Regions from separate parts of the Homo sapiens genome. Here regions 1 and 2 are each linked to region 3. Evidence: fine-mapped expression QTL. A gene starts in region 3. Each other region holds a variant in brackets. All regions are shown on one strand. Distances are between the middles of the regions.

What was found. PIP is the estimated chance that this variant, and not a neighbour inherited with it, causes the effect.
Region 1: its variant is fine-mapped to the expression of PAN3-AS1 in monocytes (Quach 2016, PIP 0.95).
Region 2: its variant is fine-mapped to the expression of PAN3-AS1 in whole blood (INTERVAL, PIP 0.99).

Annotation. Positions count from the first base shown.
Region 1 is chr13:28,230,790-28,241,684 of GRCh38, forward strand. All of the region lies in intron 6 of PAN3 (poly(A) specific ribonuclease subunit PAN3), which reads left to right. It also overlaps the pseudogene RNU6-82P. Among named protein-coding and RNA genes, the nearest start is that of PAN3-AS1, 97 kb to the left of the region's middle. RefSeq lists an enhancer at 7,130-7,785. The variant T/TAC (reference allele first, on the strand shown) is at 4,907.
Region 2 is chr13:28,269,163-28,280,057 of GRCh38, forward strand. It overlaps PAN3 (poly(A) specific ribonuclease subunit PAN3), which reads left to right. Exons shown (of 19, transcript NM_175854.8): 13 at 1,539-1,704; 14 at 2,819-2,909; 15 at 8,075-8,214. It overlaps LOC124903140 (a long non-coding RNA gene), which reads right to left. Exons shown (of 2, transcript XR_007063735.1): 2 at 9,684-9,816. Among named protein-coding and RNA genes, the nearest start is that of PAN3-AS1, 140 kb to the left of the region's middle. The variant G/A (reference allele first, on the strand shown) is at 6,463.
Region 3 is chr13:28,134,563-28,145,457 of GRCh38, forward strand. It overlaps PAN3-AS1 (PAN3 antisense RNA 1), which reads right to left and starts at 4,612. Exons shown (of 2, transcript NR_029383.1): 1 at 3,985-4,612; 2 at 2,281-3,843. It overlaps PAN3 (poly(A) specific ribonuclease subunit PAN3), which reads left to right and starts at 3,983. Exons shown (of 19, transcript NM_175854.8): 1 at 3,983-4,525. The coding sequence starts at 4,096. RefSeq lists silencers at 3,828-3,937, 4,128-4,207, 4,248-4,647 and enhancers at 4,730-5,024, 10,090-10,384.

The DNA of each region.
Region 1 (10,895 bases), 96 kb after region 3:
AGTTTCTTGTTTGTAAACAACACAACACAATTTATCACTATGAATGAAGGACACCATTTACTCAAACAGTCACTACCACTCAAGAAGAAAAAAATGGTTCTTTTCAACCAAAACAGTTATATTTAGTAGCTAACACCTTTCTTCCCTCTGTTTTGATGCTTCGTTTAAGTAAGTGTTATTATTTAAAAGATTGCCACCATTGTAGAGTCTAGGGAGATCCCATCATTTTAGATCATTTGGCCAAGTTTGGGGACAAGCAGGTAGGTTACTGTTTTGTTTCTTCAAACATAGAGACCGAAGTAAGTAACCTACTATTATAGGCCAGTGGGTAAGATTCCTACTAGTATAGTTAAAACCCTGATGCTGGTTTTTTAAAATATGTTGAATTATTCATGTTTTTGGGATTTAGGCACTGCACTTTATACAATCAATAGTCTAATGATATTTGTTAAATTAATTAATGACAGTTCATCTAGAAATGACACCATTAATACAGGCAAGACTGAAGTTATGTCAAAGGGAAGATTACTATGTGTAGACCAGGAAAACAAAGTAGTTGTGCAGGCTGTGATCTCTATCAAATATTGAGGACTGTGTGTTTGATAAAGCTCAGGTTAAATTCATCATATAAATTGACATTATGTGCCTGAGTTTGGTCAATAAGATTAAATACATTTTATGAGAAAGCTTTAAGGTACTTAATTATTTTGTTAATGCTTACAGTATTTCTAATACCAGATAGTCTTAAGTATCTATCATAGATAGATATTCAGCCAAAATGAAGTAGGATTATATAAATTAGTTGATGAAATTCTGTAGTTATTAAGGGGAAAATCAGAGATGGAAATTAAGTTGCAATTATTTGGGTTAGATCCACATGGCCTCTATTAAAGGTGATTTACATGTAAAAATAAGTCTAGGCAACACAGCATGACCTGGTCTCAAAACAAATAAACAACAACCATAGGCAGGTATGGTGGCACACACCTGTAGTCCCAGCTACTTGGGAGCTTGAGGCGGGAGGATTGATTGAGCTCAGGAGTTCAAGGCTGGAGTGAGCTATGATCACACAATTGATCTCCAGCCTGGGCAGCACAGTGAGACCCTGTCTCTGAAAATGAAAATAAATAAATAAATAAATCTTTTTAGAGTACTTTGAAATTTGTCGTTTTATTGCATAATATAAAGAGATTTTGTACTTTTAATCAGTTCATGGTGTTATAATTGAAATGTCACTGTTACGCAGTCATAAGGTAAACATTTAGCACTTTTCCTTTATATTTACCCAAAAGTGAAAACCAGTTCTTGTTTACTTCTCAAAAAAATGAAAAAGAATACTTTATTTGTAATATCTTTGTAGTCTCATTCACAGAATTCCTAATCCCCCGCAACCCGGAGGCTGTAAAAATGAGGATAAGGGGTTAGAAATTTCCAAGAAGTGACTGTTGTTAAGATAGACATTGAAGGACAGCAAAATAAGAGTAGAATTAGGTATCATAAAGAGCATAGTCTTTGAATCCAAGGTTCAGTTTACCCCGAATCTAGATGTTGGATACTTCAAGAGTAGAAAATTGTTCTATCACATCCTAAAAAACTGTTGTTTTAATGGTAACTATTGATTTGACCCACTTTAAATGGGATATATTATATTTGCATATAGAAGATGAAGCTCTAGTAGCTTCAACGTAAAAAAAAAAAATCTTTGAAATGTATGCTCACTTTGGCAGCACATACGCTAAAATTAGAACAGTACAGAGAAAACTAGCATGGTCCCTGTGCAAAGATGACATCCAAATTCATGAAGTGTTCTGCATTATAATATATTTTTAAAAAATTTATAAAGATTAAAAAATAAAAAATTTATAAAATACTGTATTGAGAATTTAATTTCCATTGGCATAAACACAAATGATATGCACAGAATTACATATACATGTATTAGGAATCACATTAAGTGTTTAGATAAGGGATCTGTTAATTTGAGTTCGAGGGTGAGCAACCCTTATCCAAAAACTTTTTTTTAAAGACTCCCTTTTATTATGTTAGGCTAAAATTGTAACCTGTTGACAGAAAATAACATAACTGTGATCTATGGGGAAATCAGGCCTCTATGAAAATAATGATTTGTGAGTGTACATATTCCTCATCAATTTTACAGAACAAGTTTTTAGGTTAGATTCATTATAAAACATCTGAATTTACAGATTAGAATACTATTATCTTTTTTTTTCTTGAGTAGCTTAATAGATATCCAGCATGCAGATTGTTAAACTAGAATACGAAAATTTTAAATCAGTAATTCTGAAAGGCAAATGTATTGGTATAGTTAGGAAAATCATGGGTAGTAACTTCAGATGGTTGCTTTTAGTAATTCTTTAAAAAGTGGAAAAAAATTATGTTAAAAACCTCATATAGAGGAGAAGGGATTTTTGTGATTTGCTTAGGTGCATTTTTTCCTAATATTTGGAAATTATGACACTTTTTTTTTTTTTTTTCAGGCGGAGTCTCACTCTATTGCCCAGGCTGGAGTGCAGTGGCATGATCTCGGCTCACTGCAACCTTGGCCTCCTGGGCTCAAGCGATTCTCCTGCCTCAGCCTCCTGAGTAGCCGGGATTACAGGCGTGTACCACCACACCCGGCTAACTTTTGTATTTTTAGTAGAGATGGGGTTTCACCATGTTGGCCAGGCTGGTCTCAGACTCCTGACCCCAAGTGATCTGCCCACCTCGGCCTCCCAAAGTGTTGGGATTACAGGCATGAGCCACCATGACCGGCCTGGAAATTAAGACATTCTTATTAGAATTGTGGCTTATTTTGTTTGGAGGAAAAGTATATTGTGTAGCTGTGTGCATTTTTTTATGTTGCAAATTAATTTTGTGTTTGAACATTTATTCCTTGAGGAAGCTTTAGAGGTACCTCAGGATGTCATAAAATCAGTGTAGAAATTAAAAAGGCTTTTATAATTTCACTGGCAAATATCAGGTTTATAGTCTTTCTAAAATCTAATCTCCCTGATGTTTTCCCTTTGTATTTCTGTAAAAAGAATATAGTTCCATTTATTTCATCAGAAATTCTGTTTTATTGCATTAACATTGATTTCATGTTAATCTTTTAAAAATTAACCAAAGATGTGTATCAGCATTTCCCAAGGTGCTTTTAAAATATACATTGCTGGCCAGGACCCCTAAACCTACCAATCCAGTTTCTCATCCAGACCTCCATTTTTCTTTTCTTTCAGTTCTATAAATGTCTTTTTTTAGAAAGCCTTTCAGGTATTGTGATGTCAATCCTATTTAAGAACCAGTGCCTTAAGAGAGTTGAGGCAGTTAAGAAGCACTAGTGTGGTCTGGTACAGTCAGGGAGAACAGGCTTCCCCCTTCCTCTTACTTTCAGTTCCATGTGGGTTTTGTTGTTGTTATTTTAAGAGGCAGGGTCTTGCTCTCTTTTCCAGGTTGGAATGCAGTGGAGTGATCATAATTCATTGCGGCCTTGAATTCCTGGGATCAGGCAGTCCTCCCACCTTGGCCCCCAAAGTGCTGAGATTACTGGCCTCCATATGTTAATAATTAGAAGAAAACTTTAATATATTGTTTATTATGAAAAATTAAAATTTTTCATGTTTTGGAGTTTTGTATGATTATGAAGATACTATTGGTGTGCATGTGAATGTATAATTTCTATATGCTGTAAAAATTATAGGTAACAAGGGTTTTAAACTGATTAATTCATTTTCCCATCTTCAGTTTTCTCTGTAGCTACTACCTAAGCTATGTGAAAATCTCTTAATTGCCTTAGGAAAGTATGTCCTAACTTGTCTTCATACCTCAATTCATTTTAGAATTTATTAACTCTTATCCTACATTCTGTTTGCTGAGTTAAGGCTTTTTCTTCTCTAGGCTTTTATGAAGTTGAGTAAACTGATCATCTTCCTCTTGAGTATTCTTTATTTTTCTTTCTTTTTTGTTTTTAATTTCAAAACCTTCATTTTAAGAAAGATTCTTGAACAGGAAACCTAAGGTTTATTTTTGTGATCTTCATTTTCCATATCTACTTGGCTTTCATATTATATCTATGAACTGTCTTCTATTTTCCTTTTTTTACTCTTGCCATCATAGCCGCTTCCATGCACTATTTAGGCTAATTGGTCTACCCTTGCATTTCTTTTTTGTATAATAACAAAAGTAATCTTAAATATAGACCAAATCATGACTAAATTGTCATTAGAATAATTTCCAAGCCCCTTACCATGGCCTGCATAATCTGTTTTATATACCTATAATCTCACCTGTCATTCTTTCCCTTGTGTACTCCGTTCTGGCCTTTTACTGACATTCCCCAAATAATGTAAAGCTCCTTTTGATTCATGTTCTCTGCATGTGTCATTCCTCCCATTCCTTCCATGGCTGGTTCCTTCTCTTCTTCTTAGGTCCCTGCTAAAGTGTCACTTATAAAAAAAGGCCTTTGACAATGTAAAGGAAGTTTCCCACCATTATTTTCCATCCTCTTCCCCTGTTTACTTCCTTTAAATAATTGAAGGTTCTATTAAAATACTGCCATCTTTCTTTTCTGATTAAATGGACCTAGTCCCTTTGACTCTACTTCATATAGGACCTCACTCTTTTATGAAGTACATCTCCTGTTCTTTAAGAATATGTATTTGAACATGGTCAGCCTTTTCCCCATCATCTCTGTGCCTTTGCTTGGGCCTTATGTTGCCTGGAAGGCTCTCCTATTTATTGAGATCTTTGCCTGCTTTTTATTGATTAGGTCAAATGTCATTTTCTTGGAAGTCATAGCTACTTCTCTGGTCATTATAGTATCTCCCATTTCTTTGCTTTTATAGTGTGTTGAGTATCTCATAATTTTTTAGTATTTTTGTCTTTCTCTAATATACACACACACACA[T/TAC]ACACACACACACACACACACACACACATATATATATATATGTATTTATTTTAGAGATAGGCTGTAGCCCAGGCTGGAGAGCAGTGGCTCGATTGTAGCTCACTGCACCCTCAAACTCCTGGGCTCCTGTCTCACCCTGTGGAGTAGCTAGGACTAGAGGCACTCACCACCATGCCCAGCTGATTTTTAAATTTTTTTTTTTTTTTTTATGGAGTTGTGGTTGCTACAGGCTGGTGAAAGTTGCTCCAGGCTGGTCAAACTTCTGGCCTCAAATGATCCTCCTGCTTCCACCTCCCAGAGTATTGGGATTACATACGTGAACCCCGTGCATGGCCTTCATGTTAGTTTTATACGTATTTATTTCCTCCACTAAAGTTAAATGCTCCTGTGGTATTTTATCCTTTATTGTGCTCACATATGAAGAGCTACAGTTAAGTATTAAGATTGAACATTTTTAAGCATTTTAATGAGCTTTATGGTAGAATGTGAACTGTGTGAGTTTAGACCTAGGTTTTATTTCTCGATATCTTCAATTTTTAGAATCTTGCTCAGCGTTTGATCTCATGCTGGTTCCAGTGAGCTTTCATATATAGGTACAGATCAGAATCACATACGGTGCTTTGAAAATATAAATTCTCTAGTCCCCATCTAGGACCTATTAAATCAAAAACACAGATTTGGAGCATCAGCCTTTATCTATATTTTTAAAAAATTCACAGGAGATTCTAACATATACCCCTTTACATCTAGAGTAAAAAATGTTCAAAATGCCAGAAAATTTGAAGGAAGGTAAATTTTATCTGATTTGAATGAGGATGTAAAGGAAAAAACTTTCATGGAAGAAGAACTGAGATGGTTTTTAAAGGAAGGATAAGATTTTTTTATCTGTTTTAAAAATGGGCAGTTGAGAGTCAGTGAAGTTTGTTATTTTTTCTATTTGTTTTAACCAGTTTAGCATAAAGACAATGTTCTCAGTGAATGTTTAAAAATTAATTCAGTCTGAATTAGGTGAAGACTGAATGAACATCTGTGAAGAAAATCTCAGGCATGGTTCCAAGCCATAGGCTTAGAGCAGGGTTCTTTTTATTTTTGTAGAGATGGGGTCTCCCTTTGTTGCCCAGCCTGGTCTTGAACTCCTGGACTCAAGCGATCCTCCTGCCTTGGCTTCCCAAAGCGTTTTGTTTTGTTTTGTTTGTTTTTCTTAAAAGCAAACAGTACCTTGGTATCAGTGCATATTGGTTAAATATCAGCTCTCTAAAAGTGATGATTTTGCATGACTATTTAGAATATTGAAATCATATGGATTCTTTTGTTTTACAGAGCTCTGTCTTAGGCTCTTAGTCCCTGCTTTTGTTATGTGGAGTTTCTTTTTATCTTTTCAAATATTTATATCCAAAGAGTAGAATTTTGTTTTAAAATTAGCATTGTTAGGCCAGTGAAAACATTAGATTGGGCTGGAACATGGAAAAATTAATGGAAAATGGCCTAGAGGTAGACAGATTTTTTTTTTTTACATGTTAAGTACCTGATGCTCCTCTTTTAAAATCTTTTTAACAGTTTTATTTGCCATCAGCTTCACAGAGTTTGGCACATTGTTTCTTGAGGGTTGTCAGAATGTGGGGAGAAGAGACTAGTAGGTAATAAGACTGGAAAAGATGGGTTGGAACCTAACTATATCACTGGAACTCAGAAATGAACAGGCAACCAAACCTTAAGACTTAATTATCATTTCTGCCCCTAGAGAACCTGTGAACCAGAAGCACCAAAACTTAATTAGAGCTTAGAACATTAGTTTTCATACATTTTTAAAAAATAGCAGCAGTACTCTTGTGAAGTCCTGTGTGAACCCCCAAACCTAAAGTTACATAAAGCAGATAAAGCTGGAATTTACCGGTTCGGGTTTATTACATTAACTCATAAAGTTATTCAGTGAGAATAACAAGGCTATGTAGTATTTTATTGAATATAATAGCTTGAAATTGGTGGGTGAAGAATAATAATTAACTTTGTATCCCTCAAGTCTCCTTTTTTATATTTTTAATCATATAGTAACATGAAAATCATGAATTCCATGGGTAAGTTGTGTACTCATGTGTTCAAGTTTCTCTGAGTACATGTGCATTTAAACAAAGATTATTGCAGAGTCACTACCTTCCTAATAAAAAACATCTGTATGTATGCACAATGGTGACAAGAGAGAGGCTTTACCTTGAGGTCTGCATGAAAATATCCTAACCCAACACAAAATTAAGTATATTGGTGTTGGTATGTTAAAACATGAATGCATGTTAATTTGACCTGCATTTGTGTGTTTTTATTTATTTAATAAACAGTGGAAAAACAGATAAAAAGAAATTCAAATCAGGCATTTACAAAACCCCGAGGCACTGCTGGAAGCCTAAGGTGTAGTTAAAACTGTTTTAAAACCACTGCCATAGGTGGCCTGTTTCTCAGTAGGAGGGAATTTACCAGTACATAGGTTAAGGAGGCTGGAAGGCTGCAGCACTTTTCTTAGCTGAGATTCCTCATTTGAACCAAAGAGTACAGAAAAGTGATATAAGCGATTATTTTGTCATTCTGCAAAGGGTAATGTCTATCAGGTGGCATTATACAATGGGTGTTTAGCTCATTGGTGCTTAATCCCCCTGAAACCCCTTTTGAAAGGTTGGGAAAGTGAGGAATCAATAAGGCATTAAAAACCAAGGAACCAAACAAAAAAGACACTTAACCAAAATGTCAGATGCCTATATTCAAATGAGTACAATTTTCAAGACAATGCATGGTCACTACTATATTGTATTTCACAAGTCTGAGCTCTTAGGCACTGAGTTTATGGCTGAGAATCAAGATTTGTTCATGTTAAAACTTGGAAATGAGAAAGATATATTTTAATTAGGATAGATTTTCATTTGATTAATTAATAGCATTGATACTTTTTTTAATGAAAAGTTGTATTGGCCACCTTCATGATTCTGTCTGGATGCAGGCTTGAGTAACGTTTGTAAACAAAAAAACTTTCAGTCTAATTCATACAAAAGGAAAAATGATGTTTCAGTGTTATGAAATTAGCTTGAGCTCTTTAGTTCCTTTTCTTATTTTTTCCCCTTTTTTTTCATAATAGTGTATTATAGATAAAACCACTAACTCATAAAATGGGAATGTTCCCTTGTTTTGTTATGGCATATCTTGAAGCTCAAAGGCTATGCATGTTGATTTTTTTTTGGGTTTAGACATAATAAGGAAGGCAAGCCACTATTTGAGGTCTTGAAACAGAACATGTTACTCTTTTCAATCTTTTGATTCAGAATATTTTATTTAACAAGTGAATCAGAACCTTGAATTTAAGGAATTATGTAACATTTCACTAGTTCATTATGTATGGCGTTAAGCAGAGTTACTCTAGATATCCAAACTGCTTTTCTGGTGGAGACTTTTAATCCCACCCCCCCCACCCCCCACCCCCGCCAACACACACACACACACACACACACACGCATGCACACACGCACACACACACACACACACACGGAAAGTAACCAACTTGTCAAAGAAAAAATACAACAAAATGAAAATAGCTTTGGCCCTTATAATACTTTCCATTTATGTTCCCTTCATATTTTTTCCCAGTGAGAAACCATATGGTTTGTGCTATAGCTTCTCTTGAAAACTTTGTTAGCTATTTAACAATCTCACTGTAACTGAGTGAAAGCTTTAATCAAGAACTGCCCATGACATATAGATGCCTTTGGTTCATTGGCTACTTCTGTAGTTGAAAGGAAGTTGAACTATTTTTTTGGACCCAGTAAGTTTGTCCTTTCCACTTGGGTGTTGAAAGAGCTTATGAGCAGTAGCTGTTCTGATTTTTGTTGGTTGTTTTCTCTAGGGAACAAGCTACCCTCTGAGTCAGCACTGGACTTGAAGATAAATCCTACAATTCATGAAACTGACTGATTCGACTAAAGGATGGATAGTTTGGGCAGCGTTGGACAGCTCTATGAGGGGTCTGTTTGTTTAACTGAAGGGATTGTTGAGTTCAGCAACTTTTAATTCCCCTAATCATAAGGGGTTGCTGTTGTGAAAACAGGGTTTGTGAAGGAATCAGTTCTGGCAATTAACATCAGTATTCTTACTGACTTCGTTTTTATTTTATTGTCAAACTTCTTTAAAGTGGATAAATTTTACTGCTTTTTTTGCCAGCAAGAATTTGTATGCACTGAGAGGTCAGCATAGAAGCTTTGCAGTCTACTTATGAATCCAAGTTTCTTTTTTTAAAATATATGAGGTTATAAACATTTCTCTCAAGTAAACTTTTTGACACTTGGATTATTTCATCTTTACAAAGGTAGTATGCATTTGTGGCTTAGAATTTTTAAGATTTAATGGAACTTAATTTGAGTAGTAAATATTTTGCTAGTTTAGTGAGTATATTTTGGCTTATGGCTAACATGCTTTTTAGATAACTTTTATTAATAAGATATAATGAATTTTTACCCTAAAACTTTACAGGCTTTTAAAAATCAATCTTTGAGGAAATGAGATTAATTATAATGTTTAATTATATGGATTTTTAATCTGAAACATGAGGGATTTAAGCTACAGAATAAAAAGCTTCATACCCTAATTTTCTGGGCCATAATTATACAGGGATACAGTGGATTGTCTTTTTGAAGATAAAACATGCTGTGGGATGACATAGAAAATCCCAAAGCTGTGTCTGTGTGATAACGCATATAATTTTGTTATTTAAGAATTAAAAGATTATAAATGTATAAATTTTATTTTAATCATTTGAAAGTTGGGATGGTTGAAAATATATAGGAGTAATGATAGTATTACCTAGCCAGTATTTGAGTAGATTCTTTAAATATCTTTGATTGATTAGGCTAGAAGTACAAATAGTCATCCATCATGGCAGAGTTTAGAAAATTGGGCTTTAGACAAATGAGTTTGCAGAAAATTCAACTTTCGCTCCATAGCTGCATGATTCTTATTACCTTGTTAAGCTTGATACTTTTGATTAAGAACATTTTTTGCCAGATTTGATTTTCTCTGCAAAGGTTAATTTGATTGAAAAAATGAAATTATTTTGAGGAAAGAAGTAAAGGCTAGTATTATTTTAGTGTCTACTTTCTGATTCTGTTGATTTTTGGATGGTGAAGTGGTTGGTTTTATATTGTACACTCTATTCTGGGATGAGATCCATGTTTAAAACATACATATGCCTATGTCTTGTTTGTCCCAGTCATATCTTTATTTGTGTCCACTTTTAAATTTTCCTTTTCGGCCGGATGTGGTGGCCCATGCCTGTTATCCCAACACTTTGCTGGGAACCGAGGTGGCAAGGTTGCTTGAGTCCAGAGTTCAAGACCAGCCTGGGCAACATGTTGAGACCCTGTCTCTACAAAAAATACACAAATGAGCCAGGGGTGGTGGCATGTGCTGGTGATCCAAGCTACTAGGGAGGCTGAGGCAGTATATGATTGCTTGAGCCTGGGAAGTTGAGGCTTCAGTGAACCATGTTGGCGCCACTGCACTCCAGCCTGGGCAACAGAGTGAAACGCTGTTTCAAAAAAAGGACAAAAGAAAGAAAAAAGAAAGTTCTCTTCAACAGAAGGCTGTACTTGCATATAGTATATAGTCATCTGGAGCTTGGGAATTTTTTTGACTAGGTTGCATCAATTGCAAATAATGCTGTGACATTCAAACTTTAATTGCAATAGTAATTATGCTGAAATACCTTCCTTAAACTCAGTTTCTTCTTCTATTAAGAAGAGCCAGTGATAGAAATGGTCTGAGGAATAAAGCTTGTCTCTGAAGCACTGAAATAACAAGTGGTGGTGGCAGGGGTGGGGTTGTGAGGGAGGCTTCGTTGAACTCAACTTTGGATAGTTTATTTATTTCTACTCTTTGAATCATAAGGAAAATCAAAGAAGAGACTTTATTAATTCTTAACATGTTTAGGACTCTTAGAATTTGGGGATATAAACAC
Region 2 (10,895 bases), 130 kb after region 3:
GCAATCCCCCTCTACCCCTATTGTAATGCCAGAAATATCTCCAGATGTTGCCAAATGCTGGAGTGGTTTCTTTTGAGAACCACTCTTTTATAGCATTCTTTTCCAGTAATTTTTTAATCATAATTATTCTGTTTTTGGTGTTCACTGATTAATATATTAATGTTTATATTTTCATAGGAAGTAGTCCTTTTTTCTAATAGTTTAAAATATTGTTTGAGTAGTCGTAACTTCCCTAACCATACCATACATGCATAAAAGCCTACCATTTTCTTACACTATGTAATTTATTATCTTAGCACAAGTGAAAAAAAAAAGCAAAGTATAAGAAATATATTGATTTAGAAAATGAGAAGAATAGCATACCATGTGGAGTTGATACGAGATTCAGAATGAGTCTATATCAGTAAAACAACTAGAACAGAGTCTGGCACACAGTAAGCACTATATGTTTGCTGCAAAAACTCTTGTTTCCTTATTACTACATTAATTAAATAGTTTCATTTAAACAGTTCATAGTCATTTTTCACATTGTCTTGGCATTTGTTACCGGTCCCATTTTTTTGAGCCTTCTTACACATATTTCCAGAGTATATTATCTTCTGTTCTGTCCAAATTGAGAGATAATTATTTTTAATTTTGTATGTGCTGCTTACCAGAAATTTTATTCCAAGCCATAAGTACATATTTGCTATTTATTATAAGTACATAATTAACCATTTAATTATGTTGCTTTTTATAACTGATTCACAAAAGGTTGTTTTACAACAATATGAATATAAGATCAGCAGGGTGTAGGGACTCATGCTTGCAATCTCAGCACTTAGGGAGGCTGAGGCAGGTAGATCATTTGAGCCCAGGAGTTGGAGATCAGCCTGGGCAATGTAGCAAAAGTGTCTCTACAAAGAAAAGAATATAAGGTCATATTCCTTGGAATAATTACAAAATCTTGATTAAATTTATATGTCTCCTTTTCTACTGATTTACAACATATTAACAATGACCTAGAAAATATTATCAAAAACCACTTAATGAGTTGATAGAATCCACCTTTGTGGTAGAGGGGCCTGAGTGATATAAGGAAAACAAACATTCAACATAAGTGATGGTAGAGACTTTTATTTCCATCAAGCCACACAATGAACAGCTCTCACATGCCTAAACAATAATACAGGGTAGGATTAGCCAGCCACATTTTAAGTAGAAAAACCTCTACGGTTTCTGTTTTTATATTTATTTGGTTAACAATTACATATAAATTCTTACTTTAAGTAATTTTTATTCAATAATTAAGTGGTTACAGAAAAGAGCATTTCAGTGAGAGCCCTATTGCTGGTATCAATATAAAAGGCATAATCTCGGACAGGAATCTTTGGGCAATAGACTAAACTTAAATTACACACATACATACACACACATATATAAATTGACATGTTGTGCCATGAGTGTACATGAATTGTCTTTGCTAATTTTGATGTTAATGCTTTAGTCTTTTAGTTGATTACTTAAGATGTCATTTTTTGGATTTCTTTGCTGTATAGGTCAGCACGAGGGACCATTGCCCAGGCAGCATGCTGGATTATTGCCAGAATCTCTTATTTGGGCATATATTGTCCAACTAAGTTCTGCATTGCGTACCATTCATACAGCAGGTTTGGCATGTCGAGTTATGGATCCAACAAAGATTCTGATAACTGGCAAAACAAGGTACTAGCATTTTGAGTTTTGGTTTCTTTTATTGAGCGTCTTACCTTTGACAGCTTAGTAAACAAAACATGATTGTTTTAATTCTGCCTTTTCATATATTCCATCCAGAAGAACTTCTGTAACTTTGAATTCATTTGTAAGCTTTTTAAAGAAAAAAAAAAAGTTGAACTCTGAATAAAATGCCTGGTTATTAACCAAAAATCTTGGGAAAGGTTAGGGAAGTATATGTGGTTAGGGTTAGGGGAATATAAAAATAATATCAATACAACTTTTCTATGTAGCACCATGGTTCACAAATTCTAGCATGAATCAGAATCACCTGGAGGACTTACAAAACACAGCTTGCTGGGCCCTACCCCCAGAGATTTTCATTCATAAGTCTGCATTGGGGCCTAAGTATTTGCATATTTAACAAGTTTCTAGGTGTTGCCATTGCTGCTGTTGAGTCACATGCTTTGAGAACAACTGGTACAGTTATCAGTCTTGTCTTCACCTGAGTTTTGAGTTGCTGTAATTTTGTGATTGTCTTGGGCTGCATAACATAAAGAGCTGAAGATCTGGTACCAAGTTATTTAAGTTCATATCCTGGCTTTGATAGTTTACTGTCGATATGCCGTTGAACAAGTTACTTCTTCAAATTGTGTTTTGACAACCTTATTAGACAAGTGTACTACTAACTCCATTCTGCTTATTTATGAGGTACCCCTCATAAAGTTATTGAGGGATTTGAATGAGTCATGTAAAATGCTTAGAACAGTGTCTGGTACATCTTTTGCAAGTGTTAGAAAGCTAACTAGTTCTCTTTTATGAATGACTAATAAACAGCTTGGAATGGTGAAAAGGACACTGACCTGTTAGTCAAGAGATGTGAGTTATAGTTCTGGCTTTCTCAGTTTCTGACTTTTACAGCTGTAGGTATATCACTTGATATCTCTGAGCCTTAATTTTACCATTTCTAAAATGGTGGTTGGTGGAGGTGGTGTGGGGTAGGATGGAAGTTAAACTCAATTCTGAGATCCTTCCTAATATTTTGGGAAATGTTACTTTTCCATGAGTATGCAATTTTTTAAAAACTTATTTTAATTATTTTCTTTAAATTATCTGGTCCTTAAAGGTTGCGAGTAAATTGTGTTGGAGTTTTTGATGTTTTAACATTTGATAACAGTCAAAATAATAATCCATTGGCATTAATGGCCCAGTACCAGGTGAGTAAGAATTAACATGGATATTTACTTGTTTTCCTTTATTAAAGACAAATTTTGTTCATTTTAAAGTATTTCAGTGTTTTAAGCCTAGATTTTAATTTATTTTGGGGTGGTGTCTATGCAGACTTTGAACATGTATCTCCCCCTCCCCTCCCTCTCTTTTCTTCCTTTCCTTTCCCCTCTCTATTTCTTTCTCTCTCTTTTCCTTTCTATTCTTTTGCTTCTGTCTTGCTCTGTCACCTGGGCTAGAGTGCAGTGGTGCTGTCAGCTCACTGCAGCTTTTGAACTGGGCCCAAGCAATCGTCTCGCCTCAGCCTCCCATGTAGCTGGGACTACAGATGTGCACTACTGTGTCTGGCTAAAATTTTTTTTATTTTTATTTTTTGTAGAGATAGAGGCTCACGATGTTGCCCAGGCTGTATTTCTTAACCATTATGATGTACTTAGTGTAGAGCCCTTGTGGGTTGGAATAAAGAGAATTCATGACAATGTCAGAGACTCTTTTTTTTTTTTTTGAGGCAGAGTTTCACTCTTGTTGCCCAGACTGGAGTGCAATGGCGCGATCTCAACTCACCACAACCTCTGCCTCCCAGGTTCAAGCGATTCTCCTGCCTCAGCCTCCCGAGTAGCTGGGATTACAGGCATGCACCACCATGCCTGGCTGATTTTGTATTTTTAGTAAAGACAGGGTTTCTCCATGTTGGTCAGGCTGGTCTTGAACTCCTGACCTCAGGTGATCCGCCTGCCTCGGCCTCCCAAAGTGCTGGGATTACAGGCATGAGCCACTGTGCCCGGCCTCCTGATAACGTCAGAGACTCTTAACTGTTCAAAATGAAAATGTATTTATGTGATTTAGGAAACGTGTCCTAAGCATAGATAGATTAAAACAAGACTAATCAGATGAATGGATTATATTAAATGACACCCTTCTTTTTCACTCCTTTAATTACACCTATTATTTTTACTTTTAGAACACTTGTCTGACTACCAGTCATGAAATTTTAGAAATGTTTTCATAGGTTTGTTATTGGATTGCCATTTTCTAAGTAATTTTTTTATTTAGTCAGAACATACCACTCACTTCTTATACTTTATTAGTATTTGATTATTGTCTGACTTCATTTTATTAGTGTTGATTTAGGCCTCGTGATGCTTCTTAGCTATTTTGCTGTTTCTTATTTCCTGATTTAAATGATAAAGTATCGAAGAATAAGAACGTATCTTCAAGCATTAAGAACAGTTGCTTTAGGCCAGGTGTGGTGGCTCACACCTGTAATCCCAGCACTTTGAGAGGCTGAGGTGGGCAGATCACTTGAGCTCAGGAGCTGGAGACCAGCCTGGCCAACATGGTGAAACCCCACCTCTCCTAAAAATACAAAGATTAGCCAGGTGTGGTGGCACACACCTGTAGTCCAGCTACTCAGGAGGCTAAGGCAGGAGAATCGCTTGAACCTGGGAGGCGGAGGTTGCAGTGAGCTGAGATCGCACCACTGCACTCCTGCCTGGGTAACAGAGCTAGACTCCATCTCAAAAAAAAAAAAGAGAATAGTTGTTTTTGCCTTGATTACTCTGCAAGTAACAAAACTAAAGTAAATAGGTCATTCAGTTTGTATTGGAATGCTTCACATTAGGATAGGCAGCTATGATTTTAAGACAATTTTAGTTCTTTGTGTATAAGAAGTTTTTGGGTTTTTTGAACATTTATTAACTTACAAAGGTTTGCTCTAAGGCAGAATTTCTTAATTACATGGAGAAACACCTTATTCTTCTCTTTTCAACTTATTTTGTTTAAAGTTTTGGAAGAAGATTTTAGTTCACTGATAGAATTTCAGAACAAAAAGAGAACAAAAAGGATAAAATGAGAAGTAGAGTCTAATCAGTGTTTAGTATTTCAGTTCATGCATAAATCTGTTTTGCTCGTAAACCACAGAGAATACAGTCCCAAAGACTTGCAGGCACTCATTGCATTCAGTTGTTTGCAGACGTTTCACACCCTTCTTTCCCTCTGCTTGTGCCCACCTAACCTCAGCAGCAGCCAAGCTGTTCTGGTTGATAGCAACATCTAGTGGGCAACACAGGGAGGAATATGATTAGTTCTGTTTTTCCCCCAGCAGCATCATTCTGTTCTTCTGCCTGAGGGCATTTGCCCCCTCTTTCTTATCTGGAGACATTGTTTCTTAGCTACTTTCATTCTTATCTTCTCTCTTATACTTAGTGCCTAGGTAGTTGGCTCCGATTAATTTTTCTTTATGACCTTTATGCTTCCAAAAGTGACAGATTATTGACTGTTAAAATATTAGTGAATATATACACTTGGATATACATCCAAGCAGATAATATTAAATTTTTGAAGGAAAATTACACATTTTTAGAGCCAGTACCATCATCTTCTAATGTAAGTATCTAGAAACCCGTGTCTGCATTAAAAAAAAAAAAAACTGCACACGCTCCTCATTCTTTTCTCAGTAGGGTTCCTTTTCAAGTATGTTATGAGTCGTGTAGTTACCTTGAAAAACAAAACTTTTCATAAGAAAAAAATCCCTGAGTTCAGACAACCAACTTTAAGCATTTAGGGCACCTTATTAATATTTGTAAGTCAGGATATGCCTTCATTCATAAAATCAGGCAACCTTCAATTAATTATCACCTGTTTATTTTTTTCAGCATTAAAGGATATATATCAGGCTTTCTTTTTTTGGGTATATATGTGTAGCTGATTTTTTATATTGCTTATTATAGTAAGGTATAGGAAAGAATTAAAGATAGTCCCAAAGGGGGAGTGTGATTTTACAGAGAAGAGGATACATGAGGAGTGCATTGTTTCTTGTAGTCTATTTTTCATAGTTTGTTTCAGACACGTGAATAGAGACTGACTTTGAGTAAAATGGACATAAGTAGAGCCATAGATAGAATCAGAAAAAGAAATCAAGAAGTCAAGAATCAGGAAGAAACTGAAAATCAGTTGGGGGGCAAATCTCCTGAATTCAACAAATGGGGGGAAACCAGATGGAGGTAAGAAGCAAAATAACAAATGGAAAATTATTTAGCTGAGAAATAAGGAAAGGAGAGTTACTGGGTTTTACGGTGTGAAACTCTCTTAAGATTTTATTAACTTCTTTTGTTTAAAAAAACAACTCTAATTTAATCTGGACTGTGTCATACATGTACTTTATTTCAAAAAGTGGATGTTCTTACCTTGAGTCCGCTTTAGAGAGGTGATGGGATGTACTAAAAATCAGATGTTATTTTTTAAACCCATCTGGTTCTTCAGCTCTCTTGGACCATTTTGGTTTTCTGTCTCATAATAGAGAATAATGGAATATTCTGGGAGGGAGGCTTAATACAGCATCAGTTCAGGGTGGAACCAAACTGAAAATTCTGCTGCTTGAAGAGTTGGAAGACTGTGTGTTGGTACCTGCTGCTCAAACACGTGATAAATAACAACAATCTTTGGTATGCTTTGCTGGATACTTTGGATTGAATCGCCCATAGAAATTTATAGTTGGCATTTATATGCACTGATTTCTTTTGGCTGAGATTTCTGTAATTTCAT[G/A]AATATAACTTGGAATGTTTTACTTGATCTAAAGTGTGATTGAGAGGAATTCTTTTTGGAGTTCATCACAGTGTCCTCCAGCAAACAGAAATGATGGCAACAGTAATAGTTCTCCTTCCCATGCCAGCTTCCCTCCTGCCATTCTGGGCTCCTGACTCTATCACCAGTGAAGTTTTAAAAGTTTTCTGGGATGAATCTTTGAATCTTTTCTAATAGATTCAAAGTAGTTTGTCTACCTAATCAGTCTGTCTCCTTATCTCATGTTCAGTGTCAGATTCACAAATGCTAGTTTTGGATAAATTTTTTAGTATGAACTTTTAAATGTTATTTTAGTAATGGAGTTTAACGTCTTTTTACTCATTATTTGGGTAGGCTGTTGTTAAGTATAACCATATAATGCTAGAATTTCACTAATGATTGCCTTAAAGTTACAAATATTCCAACAAACCAGTGGTTCTCAATCCTGGCTGCATATTACCATCATTTGTGGAAGCTTAGAAAAATACCAATACCTAGATTTTTATCCCAGACTAATTATACCAAAATTGGGACGAGGGGATGGCTACTGCTGATTTTGGTTTTGTTTTTAAGCTTCTCAAGTGATGGTAATATACAGCTATGCTTGAAAATTCCTTATAATAAACGAATGTTCAGTAAATGAACGTGTGTCTAATAATTTAGATGAGTTCTCAGATTTTAAAGATCTGCAAATGTCTGTTGTAGAAATTGCTTCAGGTGGTTTCATGTTAACTCTGAAGTACTCCATTCTTGAAGGCATGTGGTTGTTAATAGCTTCCTACCAATCAGGGCCACTTGGGATGACCATACTGTTTCCTGGAGTTATAATAGGTGATAAAGGACTTAATTCAGCCAGCTGTCTTTTGAAAATCCTTTTAGAAGGAAAGCCTCAGAATGGTAAATCTTGAGTGGGAGAGGTTTTAGGAAAGCAGGTGGTGGTTCCAGAGCTCAAAGATCTGTTAGAGTGTGAGGAAAAATAGTCTATTTGGAAACAAAGATAGATGGGATGTCATTCATTGAGGTTTGCAGCATTTTTGATGTTCTAGAGAATTTGCTCTAAAATCTGGTTAATGCTAATGTTTGTAATAGGATAACTTTTCTTCAGATAATCCTTCACATTCCCACTATATTCTGGGAGTTACAGAAAATGAGCAAAGTATGTATGTTAAGTTATAGTGGTCATAGCAAAGCAAATGTATAGTAACCTTAAATTTGTTGTAATAGAGAAGAATATTACCTCTATTTAAATAAGAAAAAATTAGAAAAACTTTTTAAAAGTGGCAATTTGTAGTTGGCATGGGAATTGCTTAAAGTCTCTTAAGGCGTGGACCTAGAACTACCTTCATCAGAATTACCTGGGTGCTTTAAAAATGTTGAGCCATTTTCTGGACCCACCCAATGAGAATCTCTGGTAGAGAGGCTCGAAGTCGTCTTTTTAATAAGCTCCAGGTTATTCTGAGAATCACCAGTATTTGAGGACCCTGCCTGCAGCTTATTTATAATGATGCTTTTTCCATTTAGGCAGTAGTGTCAGTGTATTAAATGAGTACCTGTGAAATGAAAATTAAAAGTTATATTTATTCTTTCATGTCAGCAAGCAGATCTGATATCATTAGGAAAAGTTGTGTTGGCTTTGGCTTGCAACTCTTTGGCAGGAATTCAGCGAGAGAATTTACAGAAAGCCATGGAACTGGTGACAATCAACTATTCCTCTGACCTGAAGAATCTGATTTTGTAAGTTTTAATATATGATAAATTGTACAGAATGATTATTTGCGATAAGACAGAGCTTTTTTTGTTTTAAGTGATTGTTTTGGTTCCCACTATTTAAAATCAAGCAAAACAGAAACTTTATGTCTTTATTTTTATTGCAAAGTAAATATTTCTTAGATAAATTGATAAACCAGTGTGTTTAAATTAGTTATTGATGTTTTAAACATTTGGTTAAAGGGCACCCAGTAGAAGTTTGTTGGTATCCACTAGCTACATGTGACCTTTTACATTGATATTAATTGAAATTTAAAGCTTACTTCTTCAATTACACTAGTCACATTTCAAGAGCTCAGCAGCCACATGTAATTACTGGCTAATATAATTGGACAGCACAGACATAGAATATTTCCCTCATCTTGGAGTTCTGTTGGATAGTGCTGCTCTAGAGAGTGTGAAAGCCATCATGAGTAAGCCTCAGGTGCAATCCAGTCATGTACTCTGGCCAAAATACCCATTCTGGAAAGCATTTGTGTGGAGACCCCCATGCTTACACTCCAGTATCTTAACGCTCCAGAGAATCCTTGAGTATCGATTTGAGATGAATTTGGCTTAAGAGAAACCCATTGTGTGGACTACTGTCACAACAGAAGGACTTCTCCGTAAGATATAGCTACTATTGGGAGATCCCAGAGGGTGGGCAACCACGACCTTTATTACAGTTATGAGCTATATTAGAGAAGAGGTGCTAATCAACAGTCTCTTTTAGCTTACAGCTGCCCATTCTGATCTTTCTGTGTAGCCCTGGATGATCCAGTTTCTTTTTGGACCAGCCCTGGGGTATGAATTGGGGGATGGAGGGTGGGATTGCCCACCTGTTCTTTGTTACACTGGCATAAATGTCCTACTTGTGACAGCACTAGAAGCCAGTGGTTGTCTGGATCCTATTCATAATCAAATTCAAATAAGATGATTTATCTTCTGAATAAAAATACTTGTTTTATATATGATCACAACAGTGATTCCTAGCCTTAGTTTGCAAATACCTAGGATGCCTCAAATAATTTCAGGTTATAATCTCTAAATTTTCCTTTTTAAAAAAGTGGGGATAGAGGACAAAAATAATCAGCCATATGTTAATAATTATTGAAACTGGGTGATGATACATGGGGATTCATTATATTACTATTCTATTATAAATGTTTGAAATTTTCTTTATTAAAAAAATGAATAAACAAAAAAGCCATACTTTAATAATAAACACAAACTAAAGTTTATGGAGTAATTAAACCATGTATCGGGCCCTTTCAAACTGCTTGATGTGAATTAATTTTTTTAATTCTCCCAATAACTCTATAAATTAGATACCATTATTAGTCCCATTTTAGAGTTACAAAACTGAGCCACAGAGATAAAATAACTTGCCAAAGTCACATAGCCTGTAATAACATTAAATATGATTAGCAGGGTACACATATGTCCATACTTACGGATGAATTGCTAAGATATAGTTTATTCACATGGGTATAGCTATTCATTTATCCACAAAAATGATGACTACTATATGCCAAATGCAGGATACTTTGAATGAGGTGAACAAAATTCCCATCTTCTGGAGCTTACACCCTAATGGGAAGAAAGAGTAAATAAACATAAAAACCAGTGAGATATTTTCAGGTAGTGATAAGACCTATGAAGAAAATAAGAGAATTACAAGCAGAAGAGTGAAGGAGTGAGTAGGAGGCTGCTTTCATGAGAAAGGGCAGAGAATGGCTTTACGTATAGAATAAGCGGCAGTAGATGATTGAGAATCTTTGTGTTCTAACAGGTAGCCCTTGAAATGTGTAGTATTTTCTGCCACTGTTCTAATGATAGAAGAAATTTAACTGGTTCCTTCTGCTGCGTGTTACTGCATTTCTCAGAAATGAATATGTCATGATACCTTGTAAATTAAGTTTTAGAGCAGAGGACAGCTTCTTAAAAAGGCTCATTCAGTTTAGCAAAATTGAAAACCCAGTTTTAGTTCTGAAAATTAATCTTTGCAAAACAACAGGAAAAGCTCCCCACCCCACACCTACCCCCTTTTAGTCCTCTCAAAAAAGTTTCTAAAAACCTTTTCTTTTTTGGCCGGGTGCAGTGGCTCACACCTGTAATCCCAGTGCTTTGGGAGGCCAAGGCAGGTGGATCACAAGGTCAAGAGATTGAGACCATCCTGGCCAACATGGTGAAACCCTGTCTCTATTAAAAATAGAAAAAAATTATCTGGGCTTGGTGGCGCACGCCTGTAGTCCCAGTTATTCACGAGGCTAAGGCAGGAGAATTGCTTGAACCCAGGAGGCAGAGGTTGCAGTGAGCCGAGATCACGCCACTGCACTCCAGCCTGGCAATAGAACGAGACTCTGTCACCAAAAAAAAAAATTCTTTCTATTAATTTATTTTTGTTTTTTGTTTGTTTCCTTTTTTTTGAGATGGAGTTTCACTTTGTTGCCCAGGCTGGAGTGCAGTGGTGCCATCTCAGCTCACTGCAGCCTCTGTCTCCTGGGTTCAAGCTATTCTCCTGCCTCAGCCTCCTGAGTAGCTGGGACTACAGGTGCCCGCCACCATGCCCAGCTAATTTTGTATTTTTAGTAGAGACGGGGTTTCACCGTGTTGGCCAGGCTGGTCTTAAAGTGATCCACCTGCCTCGGCCTCCCAAAGTGCTGGGA
Region 3 (10,895 bases):
TCATTTCTAGGACTCAAAAACAGTCAACTCTCATTTATCCACATGCAGTTTCCACTCTATCTTAAGGGATAATTTTTATTTTTTTTTGAGACAGGGTCACCTTTTTTTCACCAGGTGACACCAGGGTTGCTGTCACCTAGGCTGTCACTGCAGCCTCGACCTCCTGGCCCAAGCAATCCTCCCACCTAAGCCTCCCAAGTAGCTGTGACCACAGAATGCCACCATGCCCAGCTAAATTTTTTTGTAGAGACAGTGTTTCCCTATGTTGCCTAGGCTGGTCTCAGAACTTCTGAGCCAAGTGATTCTCCTGCCTTGACCTCCTAAAGTGTTAGGATTATAAGTGTGAGCCACATGCTTGTCCTTAAGGGAGAATTTTTAAGACTCAGGCTGCTATCACTAATATAATAATTAACCATTCAGAAAATGTGACGTTTTCCTCTCAATCTTTATTATTATTAATTTTGAGATGAAGTCTCGCTCTGTTGCCCAGGCTGGAATGCAATGGCGCAATCTCGGCTCACTGTAACCTCCGCCTCCCAGGTTCAAGCAATTCTCCTGCCTCAGCCTCCCGAGAAGCTGGGATTACAGGTGCCTGCCACCATGCCTAGCTAATTTTCTGTATTTTTGGTAGAGACGGGGTTTCACCACGTTGGTCAGGCTGGTCTCAAACTCCTTACCTCAAGTGATCCACCCACTTCCGCCTCCCAAAGTGCTAGGATTACAGGTGTGAGCCAATGCGCTTGGCCTCAATTATTAGCATTTAATAGAAATTAACATTACCCTTTAGCAATGTAGTCTCTGTTGCTGGGGAAATGCTGTTGGAGGTCAAGTATACATTTTATGAATAATTTATGGATTATTTGCAGTTTTGGATGTAATCTTCATTAACATGAAAATAACTTAGAGTTGACTACATATTTATTTTTAGTAAAGGAATACTCAACAATGAACCCTGCTTAAAAAGACAACCCTACTATAGGAATAAGTAGTTGTCTCCTAAAAAAGTGTGGAGATATGAAATGTGTGGCAAATAAGTTTATTTTTTATTTATTGACCGAGAGGGTCTCACTGCTGTGCAGGTTGGCATAAAATGGCGCCTTCAAAGCTCACTGCATCCTGGAACTCCTGAGCCCAAATGATCCTCTGCCTCAGCCTCCCCAGTAGCTAGGACTATAGGCAAGTGCCTCTACACCTGGCTAATTTTTAAATTGTTTTGTATAGACAGGGTCTTGCTAGTTTTCCCAAGAGGGTCTTGAACTCCCGGCCTCAAGTGATCCTCTTGCCTTGGCTTCCTTCCAAAGCAGTGAGGTTAGAGGTGTGAGCCACTGTGCCCTGCCATGTTGACTTTTAAAAACCCTGTAATAACTTCCAATTGTCCTCAAGAAAAAGTTCAATTCTTTTTTTTTTTTTTGAGATGGAGCCTTGCTCTGTCGCCCAGGCTAGAGTGCAGTGGTGCGATCTCACTGCAACCTCTGCCTCCCGGGTTCAAGCAATTCTTCTGTCTCAGCCTCCCGAGTAGGTGAGATTACAGGTGCCTGCTACCACACCCAGCTAATTTTTGTATTTTTAGCAGAGACGGGGGTTTCACCATGTTGGCCAGGCTGGTCTTGAACTCCTGACCTCGTGATCTGCTCGCCTCAGCCTCCCAAAGTGCTGGGATTACAGGCGTGAGCCACTGCGCCTGGCCAAAAGTTCAATTCTTTAACATGGCCCTACAAGGACTTTTGTGGACTCTGCTCCATTTTCCACTATCACTGTATTCTAACAATAAAAGCTGTTTGCCTAGAATGCTCTTTGACTATACACTGACTACCACTAGCAGCAATACTACTTTTTTTTCGAGATGGAGTCTCGCTCTGTCGCCCAGGCTGGCGTGCAATGACGAGATCTCGGCTCACTGCAACCTCTGCTTCCCAGGTTCAAGTGATTCTTATGTCTCAGCCTCCCCAGTAGCTGGGATCACAGGCGCTCGCCACCACGCCCAGTAATTTTTTTGTATTTTTGTAGAGACGGTGTTTTACCAGGTTGGCCAGACTGGTCTCGAACTCCTGATCTCAGGTGATCCACCCGCCTTGGCCTCCCAAAGTGCTGGGATTACAGGCGTGAGCCACTGCGCCTGGCCAATACTATTAATAATAGTTACAACCTACCGAATTCTTATTAGGCATGGGACAGTTTATATACATTATTAGTTATACTTTATGAAGTAGGTACTATTCTTAATCCAGGTGTACAGACAAGGCACAGAGAAATGAAGCAATTAACTGAGAGGAACACAGCTATTAAAGTGTAGGCACTTTAATCTGTTTCAATCCAGATCTGTCTGAATTCAATGATGTTCCCAAACTTGGAACATGAAAATATCAACTTTCTCCAAGAAGTCTGACATGTTTAATATCCTCTAATAGCAAATGTGATAAGGTTAGCACTTAAGACACTGGTTTACAACGGACCTGTGTACTTGATGCCTCCCCAACCGGAAGATAAGCCATCTGAACTCACTTAAGGCGGCATGTTCACTTTTGCTTCCCCAGCTCCACAGTTAAGTGTACCACAGTTTCTGGTACACGTAATGCGTGTTAATAAAGATTTGTTGAATAATCAAATAAGCGAAACTGCTTTTAAACAGAAAGCCATAATACAATGTTATTACCTTCGAATTTGGCTAGAGAACATCACCAAGCTTACCAGTTTGTGATCTAGACTCCACTTTTCCCCATTTTTTTCAGTGTGCTACTTTTGCTTATATCCATTCTTCTGTGACTTTGTTTGCCACAATTCCTTAAATACTTCCACCCCTCCTTTTCATAACAGCGATCTGCCGTTTGTGAACCTCTTTTACAGAGAAAAACTAGAATGTTACTTTTCCTTTCATAGCAATTCTTTAAAATTTCTGAAAGCCTTTAAAAGGGTATTAGCGCAAACATCAGAGATCGCTGAGGTTAAAACTATCTTTTAAAAATGAATTTCACCGTCTCAAAAAAAATAAAAATGAATTTCAAATCAAGGCTAGGCTGATTGGAGAAAAGCAACCTAGTATATTTATAAAGGTCTTCCAGTGCTGTCTAAGCAGTGTTGTCCCAGGTGGCATCCTATTTTTCATAATTTACCGAAGGCCCTTGGTAATATAAATACAGAGAATAACAGGTGCTGCACTGAGCAGGGGGTCTGTCTAAATCAACCTTTTTGGCTCCATTTTTTGACAAAGGGCCAAGAGGTTAGCGTAATCGGTCCAGTAGTTCTCATTACCTTCGAGGGGAAGGGGAAAGAGGAGAGGGGCGAAGAAAGGAAACGGGGAGAGGAAGTGTGGCAAATAGAAGATATTCTTCAGGTAGAGCCAGGGCTCGGGCCGCGTCCCCAGGTGGCCCCTCCAAACGACCGTTTACCTTGTCAATTTTCTCTTTTCAATGAAAAAAAAAAAAAAGACATCTGGCTTTTTAAGTAAGAGAATATACAAATAAGGAAGGTATCAGGTCTCGTGAGAATTCGGCGCCAGATCCGCGTCCGGAACCCCACCGAGAGCCGCCGGTCCAACCGCCGATAGCTCGCGGATGCCCCCGGGGGCCCGACGCCGGCCAGGCTTCCCCTAGCGCTCCCGCTACCCATAAGCCCTCGCGTCTCAGCGCGCACGCGCAGCGGCGACGGCCGTCTCAGGAAGAGGAAAATGGAATAAACAACTCGGAGGAACCAGAGCGCGAGAGAGCGAGTGGAGGCAGAATTTAAAAATAAACCGGCCCCTCCGCCTTCCCCACCCGCTTGCCGCTGCCGCTCCCTCTTCCCCTGCCCGCGCCCTCGAAGTCCCCGTCTGGGCCCGCGCGCTCACCCCGTCGTCCCGCGCGGCCCCTTTAAGAAAAGAGAACGAGAGAGTGAGTGAGAGAATCCCAACTCTCCCCCTACCCTCCCTCCTTCTACCCCCTCCTCCCTCCCCTCTCCCCTCCCCCTTCTCCCCGGGCGGCTCCGGCTCCCGCAGCGGGACAGACCCACCCGCCCAGGCTTTTATCCGGCACCGGCAGCGTCTTCCTTTCCTCCCCCGTCTATGGTGGTGGCGGCGGCGGCTCCTCGGGCGGCGGCGGAAGACGAGGCTGCGGCGTTGCCATGAACAGTGGCGGCGGCCTCCCGCCCCCCTCGGCCGCCGCCTCCCCTTCCTCCTCCTCGCTGGCGGCGGCGGTGGCGGTGGTGGCCCCGCCGGGGGTCGGGGGTGTCCCCGGCGGGGCGGCGGTAGGAGTGAAGCTGAAGTACTGCCGCTACTACGCTAAGGATAAGACTTGCTTCTACGGGGAGGAGTGTCAGTTCCTGCATGAGGACCCTGCCGCCGGGGCTGCCCCGGGCCTCGGCCTCCATAGCAACAGCGTCCCCCTGGCTCTGGCTGGTGCACCCGTGGCCGGCTTTCCGCCGGGAGCCGTCGCGGGCGGGGGAGCTGGGCCGCCCCCCGGGCCCAAGAAGCCGGACCTGGGGGACCCGGGGACCGGAGCCGCAGCCGGCGGAGGAGGCAGTAGCGGGGGACTCGATGGACCGCGGCTGGCAAGTGAGTGTTTTTCGGGCGGGGCGGGCCGCGGCGGCGGAGGGCAGGCCTGGGCCGGATGAGGCCCTGCTGCCGACGGGAGCTGAGCACGGCCCGCGGGCTCCCCCCCTCACCTCCCAAGGCGGTCTGAGAGGCCTAGGCCGGGCCTGAGCCCTCCTTCCTTCTTCCTGCTTCCCCTCCCCACTGCCTTCGGCAAGTCGGAGAGCGCGGGGAGGTTGGGTTCCCGGGAACGTGGGTGGGAGGACTGGGGTGATGTGAAGGGGGGGCGGGGAGGAAGGGGGATGGGCTGTGGCGTGCGGAGTGTGAGAAAGGGGGTGTCGTTTCCGGGGGGTGTGGAAAGGGGCTGGGTTTGCAGGCACATGTGTTTTGCGTGTCCTTGTGGAGTGGCGTCTGCAGAGTGTTGAGGTTCCCTAGTGGGGAGGGGTGTGTTTGTGTGTGTGTGTGTGTGTGTGTGTGTGTGTGTGTGTAGGGGGCGGGAGGTGAGGGGCGGGCTTAAGGCTTCGTGGAGTAGGTTGAAAGAACGGAAAAAGTTTGTAGAAGGCTTGCGGGAGAAAGGTTTTGCAGGCAGGAAATGCTTTCTAAGGATTAGGAGGGAGCGGACTGTCGCGTTCAAAGTGTGCTCAGGTTTAATCGAGAGTTTAGAGTAGGGATTTCACAAAGACGCATTTCATCTGAGTTTCCCTGAAAGCTAGAATAAGTTTGCTGGTGTCAGCTGGGATCCTGTCTTCTATAGCTTTGTATCAAGCAAACTCAGCATTGTGTCTTGAATGCATGTCATGTGCAGCCTGCGTTTATGTGCGACTGAGCACTTGGGTGGGGACATCTTAAGGCTGTTTATATTTCTTTTTCATGTGTTGTTGTTGTTGTTGTTGTTGTTGTTTTGGAGAGAGTCTCGCCCTGTCGCTCAGGCTGGAGTGCAGTTGCGCGATCTCAGCTCACTGCAACCTCCGCCTCCCGAGTTCAAGCGATTCTGTTGCCTCTGCCTACGGAGTAGCTGGGACTACAGGCGCGCGCCACCACGGCCAGATAATTTTTTGTAGTTTTAGTTGAGATAGTAGTCTCGTTGTGTTGGCCAGGCTGGTCTCAAACTGCTGGCCTCAAGTGATCTGTCCTCCTCAGCCTCTCAGTGTGTTGTTATCTATTGACCTGAAGCTTGTTAGTTGTTAGTGGAGTTTACAATTGAATGTGAGCGTAATCTGTTAGAGAATGTTGCCTTTACGAATAGAGCCGGTGCCAGATGTCCCTGTTTTGTTTCTTAGTATATTGAGCGTTTCTAAACCAAATAGGAGTCCTACTTTCTTGGGAATTCTGGAGAACTAGATCTTAAAATAATCTGATAGGCAGTTCAATTTGTACATGAGAACATTTTGTCTTTTTCTTAAACACTGTTAATGAACCTGATAGGAAGTTTTAGCATTTAATTGGTCTATGAGGATTATTTAATATCTTCCCCGGGGTTTTGCTTTCTTGCTTTTTCTTTCGAGACGGGATCTTCCTATGTTGCCCAAGCTGGCCTGGAACTCCTGGGCTCAAGCGATCTTCCTGCCTGGGCCTCCCAAAGTGCTGGGATTACAGGAGTGAGGCACCATGCTGGGCCAAGTGTTGTTCTGTTCTGTTCTTTTCTCCTTTCTCTCTTCTTTCTTTTTCTTTTATAGAAGTGTTTCATTTGTTGTGATGGGCTTGACTTTAATGAAGATATATTTGCTAAGGCTGATAATGCTAAGAAAATTAATTTTGTAAATTCAGATGTTTTGTAAAACAAATGGTTACTTATGGGTGGAATTTTATCACTTTCGAGCATCAACTTTGCATTTTCAGGTTAAAGTTTTGCTGGATGTGTGAGTCGTGACTCAGTAGTAATGTTTGATTAGTAACCAATGACACTGAACAATAGTTTTCTTACTGACAGAAAGAGACACTTTTTTTTTTTTTTTTTTTGAGACGGAGGCTTGCTTGTCGTCCAGGCTGAAGTGCAGTGGTGCGATCTCGGCTCACAGCAACCTCCACCTCCCAGGTTCAAGCAATTCTCCTGCCTCAGCCTCCCAAGTAGCTGGGTTTTACAGGCATGCGCCACCACGACCGGCTTATTTTTGTATTTTTAGTAGAGACGGGGTTTCGCCATGTTGGCCAGGTGGGTCTCGAACTCCTGACCTCAGGTGATCGTCCCGCCTCGGCCTCCCAAAGTGCTGGGATTACAGGTGTGAGCCACTGTGCTGGCCAGAAAGAGGCACTTTTTAAAATGCTGGTGTTAGACTTCATAGGTGATCTTTCTAGGATTCTCTTTTTAAAAAAAACTTTTAAAGTTTTATTTATCTATTAATCTTATTCCTGACAGACAGCTCTGACGATCATTCTAGGATTTTCTTTTTCTTTTTTTCTTTTTTTTTTTTTTTTTTTTTTGAGACGGAGTTTCACTCTTGTTTACGAGGCTGGAGTGCAATCTAGTGATCTCGGCTCACCGCAACCTCTGCCTCCCGGGTTCAAGAGATTCTCCTGCCTCAGACTCCCTAGTAGCTGGGATTACAGGCAGGCACCACCACGCTCAGCTAATATTGTAGTTTTAGTAGACACGGGGTTTCTCCATGTTGGTCAGGCTGGTCTCAAACTCCTGATCTCAGGTGATCCGCCTGCCTCGGCCTCCTAGGGATTACTGGCGGGAGCCACCGCACCTGGCCGAGGATTTTCTAATTAACACACAATAGGTAGAAGGGCTGAGACTTGAAAGAGGACAGGATGTAAGCAGATGAAGATGGGAGGGGAAGGTAAGTACCCTTAAGGTGGAGGAAAAAATATTAGCAGTGGCTCAAAGGTGGGACATCTTAGGAAAATAACTGAGATATAGGGACTCGAGAGGACAGGCAGTTAATGCTGAAAAGGTATTTTAAAATTAATACTTTGTCACTTGTTAGTAAAAGTTGTCTGATTAAATAGTTGATTTATGTATTTAGATTCTGTGGTGTTTGCTTTAGCTTGTCTGGCTGAAGCCTAAGGCTCCTCTTTTCTGTGATAGGCTTCTTGGTATCTCTCAGTAATTCCTTATGGATGGAGATTTCTTCATAAGGAATCACAACCTAGGTATTACTGAGAGATACCAAGGAGTGGGAAATAATGTTGCTCAGGAATCAGGAAAAAAGGTTGTGTTGGTAATTGTATGGCTTTTTTGAGTTTTTACACTTATTGTTCATTTTTTAGACTGCTTTCTACCTTTTACTGTATTCTCATTCAGTGTGTTTTGAGACAGTATTGATCCGTTTATTTTATTTTGAAGAGATGATGTCTTGCTGTGTTGTCCAGGCTGGTTTCGAACTCCTGGGCTCTAGCAATCTCCTGCCTTGACTTCTCAAAGTACTGGGATTATAGGTGTGAGCTACCACATCTGGCCTTCATTGGTTAATTATGTGTGTGAGGCAGTTAAAATAGATGGCAATTTTTTTTTTTTTTTTTTTGAGACAGGGACCACAGGCACTGGCTACCAAGCACCTCTAATTATTTTGTATTTTTGGTAGAGATGAGGTTTCCCCATGTTGCCCAGGCCGGTCTCAAACTTCTGGGCTCAAAGCGATCTGCCTACCCTGTGAGCCACCATATATACCATAATTTAGTGTTTTTAATTTCTATGTTTGTGGGTTTTGATTGAATCATTTGACAACAAAAGAAACAAAAGATTTAATATAGAAGTACAAATTTCTGGTTTCCCTTTAAGGATGTCTCTTACCTGTGTTGGAATTAGAGCTGTTGATAGAGCATAATTCTCTCCATTTTGACTCATTCCCTAACTGGATGACTTTTATATCTAGGCATTTGAGGTTTTGACTCTAACTTTAGCACTTCACATTTGCAGAATTGTTTTTGTTTTGTTGGTGTTTCAGATAGTGTTAAAACCTTGGAGGTGGGTGCATGAGAAAACTTTATCTTTATTTTGCAGCCATTGGAAAACTGAAGCACAAAGGCTTTTTCTTAATACACTTAGTTGCAATGATGTTTCAACCTTATAAGGAAACTGCAATTTGATTTTTTGTTTTTGTTTTTGTTTTTGTTTTTTTTGAGGAGGGGGTTGGGAGTTCTTGCTGTGTTGTCTAGGTTGGACTCCAACTCCTGGGCTCAAGTGATCCTAGCACCTCAGCCTCCTGAGTAGCTGGGACTACAGGTATGCCGTACCATGTAGCTTACGTAACATTTCGTATTTCTGTTAGTCTTGGGATTTTTCTAAGGCTTAAGAGTGATTTGATTTGTATTCAACTGCATTATCGATTCTTGACATTTAATGATGTAATTCTAATATTTTCAACTGGCTAGATTTTCAAAATGGCTTTAATCTTCAAAGTGTACAATTTTTAACAGGTAAAATATGCCAATATTTGTATTTTATGTACATTATTTGAAACCCAGTAGTTTTAATTTACCAAAATACACTTTTCAATTCTCCTAATGTAGTTACTAGTGAATAAGACATGTTTCAGATAGAATCCTGGCTCTTTGACTAGCTTTGTGACTGAACGAATTTTTAACCTTTAAGCCTCAGTTTTTCTCATCTGGAAAATGGAGATGTTATGAAAATTGCATGGCATTGCCTGCACATATTGAGGTTTCAGTCTTAGTTATTGCTATTATTAAATATTAATAATCTATAGTTAACCTCTGTATTTCCTTCTTCAAATTTTTGAGGGCATACATTGAAGACTAGTAAAATAGCTACAGATTATTGAATTGTGATTGTCCAAATGGAGGAGAGCAGTGCCATGGATAACTTGAAGTTCAAATGTTAGCTTTGGAATATGTAATGTGTAGCGTGTGGCAAAGCTGTTTTTGTTTAAGCCAAGACTAGCCTTTTCATCCCACAAACCTATACTAAGTGACAGAGAAGTGAGTACTGGCGATTTGCTGTTAGGATAGCTGGCATAAGTTTAAACATTTTTATTGGAATAATATACTTAGTATATCATGAAGGCTTTATAATACTGTTCATTTCACTCATTTAATATCCTGCTTCCAAGGTGGTAAGCTCTGATTAAGGTGATAGGAACAACAACAGCAACAAAAAAACATAATTCAGCCCTAATGGAGTTTACATTCTAGTGGGGCTATAAATATCTATAAGGTAATACTTGGTTTCGATAAGTTTTTTTGTTTTTTTTTTTTTTTTTTTTTTTGATATGGAGTCTCGCTCTGTCTCCCAGGCTGGAGTGCAGTGGCGCAGTCTCGGCTCACTGCGAGCTCCGCCTCCTGGGTTCACGCCATTCCTGCCTCAGCCTCCTGAGTAGCTGGGACTACAGGCGCCCGCCACCACGCCCAGATAATTTTTTTGTATTTTTAGTAGAGACGGGGTTTCACCGTGTTAGCCAGGATGGTCTCAATCTCCTGACCTCATGATCCACCTGCCTCGGCCTCCCAAAGTGCTGGGATTACAGGCGTGAGCCACTGGGCCCGGCCGGTTTCGATAAGTTTTATGAGGAAAACTCGAGGGATAACGTAACTCCAGGTGAGATTGAGTTAACAAATAAAGCACTTTTTCCTGTAAAAGTGCATTTGATGAGATCGGGCGTGTTCAGAGTGGTATGATCATAGACTGAAAGTGCATTTGAAATGACCCTTTAAGAAGATAAATGATTATCAAAAGCAAACCAAAACATCATCTTTTTTTTTTTTTTTTTTTTTCCTCAGAGCCTCACTCTGTAGCCCAGGATGGAGTGCACTGGCGCCATCTTGGCTCACTGCAACCTCTGCTGCCCAGGTTCAAGCGGTTCTCCTGCCTCAGCTCCCAAGTAGCTGGGATTACAGGAGCCTGCCACCGCGACTGGCTAATTCTCGTATTTTTAGTAGAGATGGGGTTTCACCATCTTGGCCAGGCTGGTCTTGAACTCCTGACCTCGTGATCCACCTGCCTCAGCCTCCGAAAGCGCTGGGACTACAGGCGTGAGCCACCGCGCCTGGCCCAATATCATCCTTTTATATGCCATTTTGAGGAATTTTTCCCCCAATTTTAAATGAACTTTTTATTTTGAGATAATTATAGAATCACCCGAAATTGTAAGATACAATACGGATATCTCATGTACTCTTCTTTTATAAAGGATAGTAACATCTTTTGTAGCTGTAGTACAGTATCATGGCCAGTATTGATTGCTGTAGTCTACTTGTTTACATTTCCACGGTCTTATTTGCACTTGCGTGTGTGTGTGTATGTGTGTACATATTACAGATCGTGCCTAACTTAATGGTTTGGCTTTCAATTTTTTGACTTTTTTTTGACAATTTTTTGAGACAGAGTCTCACTCTATCACCCATGCTGGAGTGCAGTGGTGTGATCTCTGCTAACTGCAACCTCCGCCTCCTGGGTTCAAGCAATTCTCATGCCATAGACTCATGAGTAGCT